Linked DNA regions of Homo sapiens. The protein of the gene in region 1 interacts with the protein of each later gene in a pairwise test. Each region holds a gene or a part of one and is shown in the gene's direction. Other genes may lie near its edges.

Region 1 (4,895 bases):
GTGCAGGTGTCTGCCCAGGAGGTCAGGAAGGAGAATCCCCTCCAGTTCAAGTTCCGGGCCAAGTTCTACCCTGAAGATGTGGCTGAGGAGCTCATCCAGGACATCACCCAGAAACTTTTCTTCCTCCAAGTGAAGGAAGGAATCCTTAGCGATGAGATCTACTGCCCCCCTGAGACTGCCGTGCTCTTGGGGTCCTACGCTGTGCAGGCCAAGTTTGGGGACTACAACAAAGAAGTGCACAAGTCTGGGTACCTCAGCTCTGAGCGGCTGATCCCTCAAAGGTGAGCACAGGATGACCCGGCCTGGGCAGGAGCAGTCATGCCGTCCTCGGCAGGGAGAAGTGATTGCCTTAGAAGCACAGTTTAAAAACACAAGGACTTCGCCAGTGTCAAGTGCTCCTTCATGCTAGTCATTAAGTCACTGACCAGCGACCTGAAACATAGCCAGGGAAGGCGAGCTGCCATTCCTCATGGAAACTAAAGCGTGGCCGTGTCCTGTGGGACATGGCATAGCAAACTTCTCGACCTGACTGCTCAGCTCCTCCTGGGGTATGATAGGTTGCCCCTGTGAAATCTGTTTTTATTTAGTAATGGTCACAAAAATTACCCCATTTGGAAGAAGAGGCCACTTAAAATACCTCTTAGTTTTTCCAGCAGAACTGAGTTCTTGTTCAAAATGCTAAGTCTTCCAGATTAACTGTCATAAATAGAAATGCTGCACATCAGGAAATAGAAACCAAAGCTCTTTGGGATTGATTGATTTGAATGGAAAGTAAGGGTTTGAATGTGGGTGGTAAGTGGGCCTCCTTCCTTGCCTGTCACATTCCTTAAGGATGACAGTGCTGTTTCCTTTTGCATTCCAGAGTGATGGACCAGCACAAACTTACCAGGGACCAGTGGGAGGACCGGATCCAGGTGTGGCATGCGGAACACCGTGGGATGCTCAAGTGAGTGCTGTGCCCTGCTGTTGGGATCTTGCCATCTCCGTGCGCTCCAGCATGTCTTTTCCTGTGACTCTAGTTAGTGCTTTAAAGGGCTCTGTGTCAGGCCTTGTGAAGACCTTGAGGGAACCGAGTTAAAAGTGGGGTTTTCTTAGGGAAGAGGTTTTTTTTAAACAAAGCCAGGTGTCTTGCCTGGGGAAAGAAGCAGTTTAGCTCAAGCCTTCAGGTTCTAAAAGCTTACACCCTCCCTTTGTAGAAAGTGTTGTGTCTAAACTTCATCTTAGTCAGAGGGGCATTGTTCACCTGCAATCAGCATTATTCTGTCAAAGAGATGCTGGTTTGCTCATTATATGAAGGTACTTGTCTTACAAAGTGTATATAAATGAAAAAGGATCCCAAGTGAGAAATGCTGATGTCAGAGAACCTGGACGTGGGGCTGTTAATGTAAGACATGGCCGAGCCACCTGATTCTGGGTGTTCTCGTCCTAGAGCCTTGTCTCTGGCCTAGTCTTGCGAGTCTGCATTATTTCAGCCTCTGAAGTTTGTTTGAGGTTTGAGCCTCAGATTTTGTGCTTCAGGGTTTCCTGTCTGGCCCAAACATCCTTTATGGAAGGAAAACAACTCAAAGCCTATGAGGAGGGTTGTGGGAAGACATGTGTGGGCAAGAGAAAAAGGAGGATTGTGCTGAGTGATAAAACTTAAAAACCTGTTAGAGAAACCAGTGTGAATCAGTTCTTCTTCAAAGTGTGGGGTTTGGTGGTGAGGCTCCAGGGCAGCACGGACCCCACCCCAGGCATAGCTTCTGGGCTGTATGGGTCCCCTCCTCACCGGTCGGCTGCCCGGCCCCTGCCTGCCTGCACGCAGCACACAGCATTGAGCCCATCCTACACAAGGCGCCTTAATTTAAAAATACTGGAAAGGTTTTACTGTTCTAGATATTGAGTGCTACCAGTGACTCTGCCTGTTTCACTCTCCCCAATTAGAGATAATGCTATGTTGGAATACCTGAAGATTGCTCAGGACCTGGAAATGTATGGAATCAACTATTTCGAGATAAAAAACAAGAAAGGAACAGACCTTTGGCTTGGAGTTGATGCCCTTGGACTGAATATTTATGAGAAAGATGATAAGTGAGTTGAAGTTCACAGTTATCTTCAGTAGGTAGGGTGGTGGGCCTGGAAACAATGGCAAAATGGCAAATTTGTGGGTTATTTTTGAAGTATTTATTTAGCAACTTACTATCCCAAAGTAGGAAACTTTTTAAAGGGCTTTTGGACTGCTGTGGCCCTCTCAAAGGGTGGTCCAGAGGTGTGGGTTATCCTCTCTCATGGTGGGCGGGGCCGATAGTGGGCTCAGTCCTGGTAGAGGAAGGCAGAATAGAGCAGAGGCTGCCTCTCCTCCCCGCTGCCTCTGAGATTCCACCCCAGCTGCCTGCAGGTACCAGCACATCCATCCATAGCTACTTCGCAGGCAGCCCAGCCAGTGCTCGACTCCTGGCTCGAGGTTTGTGCTAATCCAACCAAGAATATTGATGGTGTGATGAGAGACTTGAAAAGCTGTAAACAATAGCCTGTACGTGTAGACACTTGAGCTAAATGCTGGGAGTCTGCAGGAGATATCTTAATTGCCTCGCATTAGTTACGTTGTTTGTTGAGTGAGGGCCTGTAAGCAAGCTGGGTAGAGCAGCAGAGCCAGGCCTCTCCACAGGGACAGGCAGTTCCGCTTTCACATACAGGGCATTTGCCTTCTTTCTGCTGAGGATAAACAGGGAAAGTCATCCTAGTTCATGAGGGCAAGTTTCCCATGGTGAGTCTGCGACATCAGCATAATCCTAGATTCTGGATTGATCTGATCAGAAGCTACCTGAATTTAAGAGGCAGAAGGAAACTACCTCTGGAAAGAGAAGGGAGAGGCTCCTGACTGCCTCCTGACTACCGTCTCTGCCCTGATTGTCCACAGTCAGCCTGATTGCTCTGCAGGGCTCCCCGAAACAAATCATCTGATGGCCACCAGGTTCAGGGGCCTGGCAGAGAAGGTGCCAGGGCAAGAATGCTCCTGGGGTCTTTTTGCCAAGCCCTGCCTTTTGGCCTGGGTTCCTGCTTTCCACGTAAAGAGCAGAGTGGCCCAGAGTTCCTGGATGTACCGGTTTCCTTCCCAGCCTCATGCTGTTCCTTGAAATGACAGCTCTCCCCATTTCCCACTTGAGGCTCACCCATCTCATCTGTTCTCAGATATTTTTGTTCTCAGCATCCCCACATCTCAGGTTCCCCCAAAACCCTCTCTGGAGTTCTCAAAGGGAGTGGTGCTGCTTTCCACAAATGACCTGCATGAGTCCATCTCCATTTGCAACCACGCGGATTCCTGCCAGACCCCAGGGCACAGATCTATTTCACTTGGGCAAGTCAGGGACCTGTGCCAGCTGTGCCCAACCTCCTCTCACCTCCGGGGCCCACGTGGTGATACTGCACAGGGAGGGAGGCAGGCGCTGTCACAGGAGCTCCTCAGAGAACCTGGAAATGAGATATTGAGGACTCTCGGTTCGCTCCTACTCCAAGTGTGCTGGATGCAGCATTGGTAAAGAAGCACGGAAAAGCCAGGCACAGCGGCTCACACCTGGAATCCCAGCACTCTGGGAGGCCGAGGCAGGCGAATCCCTTGAGCTCAGGAGTCTTGCCCAGCCTGGGGAACATGGCGAAACCCCGTCTCTACCAAAATTTAAAAAATTAGCTGGCTATGGTGGTGCACGCCTGTGGTCTCAGTCAGGTGGCTGAGGTGGGAGGATCACTTGAGCCTGGGAGGCAGAGGTTGTAGTAAGCCAAGATTGCGCCACTGCACTCTAGCCTGGGTGACAGAGCGAGACCGTGTCTCAAAAAAAATTTTAAAGAAGTGGGGAAAGTGGGTACTTGGAACCAGGACACCATCTTTCCGGGAGACCCTAGAGCTGAAGCCGTGGCTATTAAGACAGCCATGCCAAGGAGCAGTGCACAAAGTCCTCGTGGGAACGTATGTGGGAAACTGCCTCTGCCTTGGAAATCTCTTCAATGACCAGATTTTGTAACGTGGCCAGGCCAGGGCTGTCCAAACAGGTTTTTCAACCTGCAGGAAAACAGCCATGGGCAGGAACTTGCTGATGTCAGCTTGTAACTGCCCCAGCCCACGTAAGTGTCCATTTCTTCCAAGTAAAAACGTGAGCTGTGTGCCCTATTTAGTGCTGTTTTTGCGCTCTGCTCCCCCTCCCCCACCATTGAGCGATGAACGTGGCAACTCTCTCAGATGGTTCTTTCCCCACAGAGCATGCTGGGGTGTTGGGCAGGCTCACTTTCTGCCTCTCTTCTCCCCATTCCTGAAGGCACACCCCTCTCTTCATGAAAAAAGCATTTATGTAGATATTCAGTCATTTAATAGGCCCAAATTCTTTCCCTTTTGAACAAATATTGACAACTTGGTAGCAGCATAAGCAGGAGACTGTCCTGAAGTCTGAGGAGTGCTGAGAACTCGCCAGCTGTTGCGCTGTTACCTCTCTCGGTAGAACTAGGAGAATTAGATATGCCTGAAACATTGTTCAGGTGAGAAAGCTGATCTATTGAATATGGAAATTGAGCTCTAAGAGATTTATACTCTGCAAGTAAAGTCTCTATTAAAACACCTGTTTTAGTATTAAATAGGGTCTGGCTGGGAAATCTGTCTCTTGGGGTTCCCTTTTCATTGTACACATAAGCATTAAGTGGGAGCATGTAGGACTATTTGTCATCTTTCTTTAAACCCTTAGCTTGGAATAGGTGGGAGTATAAAGAGGGCAAAAACAGGTAAGCGCCCTCCTGACAGGCATTGTAAGCTTGTGAACAGAGGAAGTTCAGTTTAGCTGGGTTACAATTTGAAACCTGACACTCGGACCAAAAACAAAAACTAACAAAAACTAGAGGAACCTGATCTTTAGTCCTGTAAAAGCACTTTT
Region 2 (4,895 bases), on another chromosome or scaffold:
TCCCAGCACTCTTGGAGCAGGGTCGGTGGGAGCAGCTGCTCTGGGGGGCTAACAGTTCCCTTGGATTTCATATCCCATCACAGCTATTCGTAAGGGAGTGAGCAGCAAAGCCAGCCAGTATACTGCGCCCAGGTTGTAATCGCTTCATCCTGTATTCCAAGTAGAGTGGGATTTTTATTTCCAGTTAGAGGAATGATGTGAGAATCGACTGCACCGAGACACAGTACTGTTCCATACGTCATTGCATGTCATTTTCTTTTCCCAAGAGAAAGTCAGAATTTACCCAGTTAGAAGTGCAGGTCAAGTAAGAACATAGATACCTTATAGATCATCAGAATACTTCTCTCATGGTTGGGGAAGGGATGCTATGTCCTGCCATCTGCCAAAGCTTTATTATGAAGCACGGAAGGGCTTCAGTCCTCTCAGAAAGCACACTGTGCCATAGAGCCAAGGGTCACAAGAGGGTGGGGGATCTTCTCCCCCATTGAACCTCCCCCTACTGCACGTTAACTTTCATTCACTCATAGCTTCTAACTCACTGAAGGAGCTAGGACCATTATGCTTTTTAATTCTTTTTCTCCTCTCCCAGTGGTAAAAATGAGTATTCTGGCTGTATACTTCTAGAAGTTGGTAAATGTCAATATTGGATAAGTGTTTCCTTTATATCACTGCAATTTAGCATAAGCTGCTTGGAAACAAATGTCTTCCATAAGCATACAATGTTTCAGTGCGTACACAGTCAACACCACTATGAACATTAAATAAATGTCAGCTATTCCTTGGCATACTTGGTAACAAGTTAAAGCCATGGAAATAATGGCCAGCATAGGTGAATCTGCTCTGTGTGGAGCTGTTCTGTTGGGGCATGAAGGGTGGAAAGAGGAAGTCATCCTTCTTCTCCTTGGAAATAACTGCAAAGGGGGCAGCCAAACACAGACACCTGCCTGCATCCCCTGGACAGGTTTTTCCTGGCATCTGGAAGCCTTCCCACGCCCTCCTGACCCCCTACTGAACACATACACACACACACACGCACACACCACTTAATGTTAAATCAGTGTGATATCTCCAGAATCAGCCACTTTTCTCAAATGGGAGCTATGCTCTCACCCTACTCTTTGCCTGTCTTCATAGGCAAAGCAAAGTAGATTTATCTGAGGCTGATTTTTTTTTTTTGATAATTGAAACTAAAACTGCAATGGATGGCCTATGTATGTCAGTATAAGAAAGGATGTGTGCGCATCATGCTGAATTATCTAGATGGTCTGCTCACTTGGCCTGTATTCAGTGGATTGTTGTTGCAAGTTTCTTTTTAACTTATGCAGATTCTTTTTAACTTATGCCTGGACAACTGGAATCTGAAATCTGAGGCCAAGAGTTGCAGCAATAACAAACAAACATCGCTGTCACTATTCCACATTTTCCCCCAGGGGCTCCACATAGTCTAGTGTCTCAGTGGGTGAAATATGCTGCTCCTTCCTTTGTGATCAAATACCATTTTATGACACTAAGGCTCAGCCCTTGACCACTCAGCCAGCACTCACTGTGGGCCTCCTATGCAGTAGGCACTGTGCTGGGGCTTTTGATGCAAAGATAATGAAGACCATGTTTCTGCCCCAGAGCTCTTAGTCTGGTTGGGGAGCAGACACTTCGATTAAGGTTACAATATGATGGGTTCAGAGCTGTCAGAGTGTTCTGAAAACAGGTGGATCAGCAAAGGCATCAGAAAAGGTTGCACAGAGGAGATGACATCATGCTTGATATTATAGGATGCTCAAGAGTTCTCTAAACGAAGCATGAAAAGCGATTTCCAGTCTCTTACATACCTTACAGTGTATGCAAATACAAAAGGCAGAACAGAATGCGATATGTTCAGAAGCCATGGGCAGTATGATGGCTAGAGTGCTGCTGTGTTAGGGAAGTGGGAGAGGAAGGTTGGGAAGGGAAGAGTCAACTCGTGAATGGCCATGGGTGCCATTATACATCTTTTGAGGATGGATTGAGATAATTAAGTAAACACCTGAGAAACATTGCTAGTAGCCTATGGGTTTGTGGTCCTCTCTACATCACGGGTTTAGGGATCAACATGTTATTTTTACTTCTTGGTATTTCTTGTGTTTCACATGGGGCTAAAAATGTAAAATTGAATGGAAATATACTTTTTAATCGTTCTTTCTAGCTGATGGATGAAGTGAGCAAGAGAATAAGTATGGGGGGAACTGACCTTAATGGTTAGTCCACATTCCAGAGAGGAGGCACAGAAGGATGGTGGGTAGATGAATGCCAGAATGATGTGTTAGCTAAAGAATGTGGAAGAGAAGAAAAAAGATCATGGAAACACACAGAGGCAGGACTGCTGGCTGCACGCTGGACTTGAGCAGAAAGAGTGCATTGAGGAATGAGATTTGCCAGTTTGTGGATCCCCTTGGCTAGTTAGAGGCGCAGGCAGCCTAACATTGAAGATGGGTGCTAACCAGAAGAGGAAACAGCACTGGAGCAGGTGAGCACAAAAACCTAGGGACATTTTGCTGATGATGTCTTTCTTGTTCTCAAGAGGAAGCTAAGTTATACTGGCTTTAGGGAAACCAAGGTTACAAGTGAAACAATTCTACTCAGAAGATGTTGGAAATGTTTTACAAGGCTCTGGCACTGAGTACCCTTCCATTTAAGAGTAGAGAATATCATCAGATCTACCTGTATGTTCCACACTTTGGCCTGTTCTCTTCAGGAACTGGTGGAGGCTGGCAGGACAAGCTCAATGATGAAGCAAAACCCCGATTGTTCAGCAAGAAATAGACAGTGTTATTTCCATGACTGCGGATATGTAAGTCTCAAGTCTAAGGCTGGCCCACTGAACAGTCTCTCATTGCTGAGAGTGTTCTGACTCACGGTGGAATTCAGGCCATCAGGAATGTAGGAGTCAATTCCTGAGAAATGGGTTAGAGAGTAGACTAGATGACGTCCAAAACCTCTCCAACTGTAAGATTCTCTGAATATTATCTCTTAGCAACAATCTATTTATTTTGGATGACACATTCCTAGGGAGTAGGTGATGCATTCTATTTGCTCTTTGCCAGCAAATTTTCTTGTAGGTGCCTGGCAAATTCTTTTGGTTGTTGAGGGTGTTGTTAGTCGTGGCAGTAATTATGTTCTTATGATGATGATGGTGATGATAACTAGCATTTGTGTAAAGCTTCATAAGTTGCAGAGTGGCTTTCACAAGCACTACCTCATTTCATCAGCAGAAGTAATGAGAAGTGGGCATTATTGCTGTCATACCCCCAGAGAGGTTACTTTGCTTGACTAAAGTCATTTTCAGTCTGGTTCACTTATTCATGTGCCTTGATGTTCCTCAAGATGCTGGTACATCCAGCTGTTCCACATCAACACTAAAAAATGCAGGAGAGTATCCTAAGCTGTGGTGTCATAAGACAGGTCATAGTCTTATAATTTGTGGCAATCCCCAGTGTCTAGGACTGGAAAAGGATTTTAGGGAGTTTCCTATGAAAATCATGCATCCGAATCCCAGGTCTGACCTTCGAACAAGGAGGCAGCATTGTAGTTCAATTTCTTTTTTATTCCAGACTCTTTCTGAGTCAGTTTCTTTATCTTTCTGGCATTCAGTTTTACCTCGGGGTACAAAGTTTCCAGAGGAAATAACAGGCCAGGCTTTGGGGCTGAAGAGTAATTAAGGACATACTGCTTGAGTAGCTCCTTTTGTGGCTGTTCTGACAAATAATAATAATAATAATAATAAAAAGGAAGGAAGCAAAGGCAGGGACTTTGCTTCTCTTAATTGGTTGATTAAAATCCAAGTCTTTTATCACCCCTGGTGTCTAGCACACTATTGGGCACATAGAAGGCTGTGAATAAGTGTGGAAATATTGGAATGGAATGAGGGGTAATGAGAGGAGAAGCCAGCAGTGCTTGTAATATCAGCACATGGAGAGATGCTGAGAGGGCCCCTGGCAGGAGGCAGAAGAAGAACCTGACTAAGTGAAGTGTGGACGTGCCCTGCAGGAAGTTGTTCCTTTCTGGAAGGCTTTGAATGCCCTTTGGGTCACCAGAGACAACGCCAAGAGAAACAGCCTCTGCCAAGCCACCCACTGCTCAGCTTCAACAGGAAACCATCGCGTCCTTCTGTTCTTTAATGCATGTCAGTGCCCATTTCTGTCAGTCACCTGCAAATGTCACAGGTGACTCGGCTCTGGTGCAGTGTGACAGTCCACCTGTCACCCTTGGCAATGCTGGGAGCAATGACAGCTTCAGAGTAACACTGGGGCCCGGTTGGTTCATTGCACAGGAAGCTTAGCACGTTCATCCGGGAGTGGCAGGAGGAGTGATTCCCACCCTTCCCTGCCTCACTGACCTTGTGGCAAAGAAAGCAAAACCACCACTTAATCCCTCAGTGGTTGCGTTCCCTAAATCCTAGGACCTGCACTTTTTCTGCGTCTTGCTAGAGGACGCTGGGGTCCACCCCACATTCACAAGGAGTTCTGTTTCTTCAGGGAGATGCCCTCTGAAGCCTTTTTCTTACATAGGAAGCTGCACCTGAGTGAGGGGCAACTGCGGAGGCAGAGAGGAGCTGTTCTTCTGAAGCCGCACCAAGAGCTGGGGCACTATTTTGGGCCCTGACGCCAGGTGAAGGCTGCAGTGCCTCAGTCAGCCTGATGGTGGCAGCAGCAGCGCTTGCAAAGCCCTGAACCTGCCCAGAGAGAGCAGAGCCCGGGAGGTCCCTTAGGACGGGGAAGGGGAAAGCCTAGTGGCTGCCGGGAGCTGGGAAGGGACGGGAGGGATGGGGGGCTCTCCTCCTCGCCTCTGGGTGGTGAGGGCAACGTTACAGATGGCGGCGGCTCTCGCAGGAGGCGGGTTCCTCTCTCCTGATTCTGCAGGGT

What was found. The genes of interacting proteins can lie anywhere in the genome.
Region 2: the proteins of EZR (region 1) and KIRREL3 interact in binary tests that used the Homo sapiens proteins (3 or more experiments, as listed by UniProt).

The regions. Positions count from the first base shown.
Region 1 is NC_000006.12:158,780,695-158,785,589, reverse strand, and holds part of EZR (ezrin), read left to right. Parts: intron 1-6; coding exon 7-281; intron 282-862; coding exon 863-946; intron 947-1,923; coding exon 1,924-2,070; intron 2,071-4,895. UniProt on the Homo sapiens protein: Probably involved in connections of major cytoskeletal structures to the plasma membrane. In epithelial cells, required for the formation of microvilli and membrane ruffles on the apical pole. Along with PLEKHG6, required for normal macropinocytosis.
Region 2 is NC_000011.10:126,990,334-126,995,228, reverse strand, and holds part of KIRREL3 (kin of IRRE-like protein 3 isoform 1 precursor), read left to right. Parts: exon of another isoform or gene 1-149; intron 150-2,694; exon of another isoform or gene 2,695-2,798; intron 2,799-4,895. UniProt on the Homo sapiens protein: Synaptic adhesion molecule required for the formation of target-specific synapses. Required for formation of target-specific synapses at hippocampal mossy fiber synapses.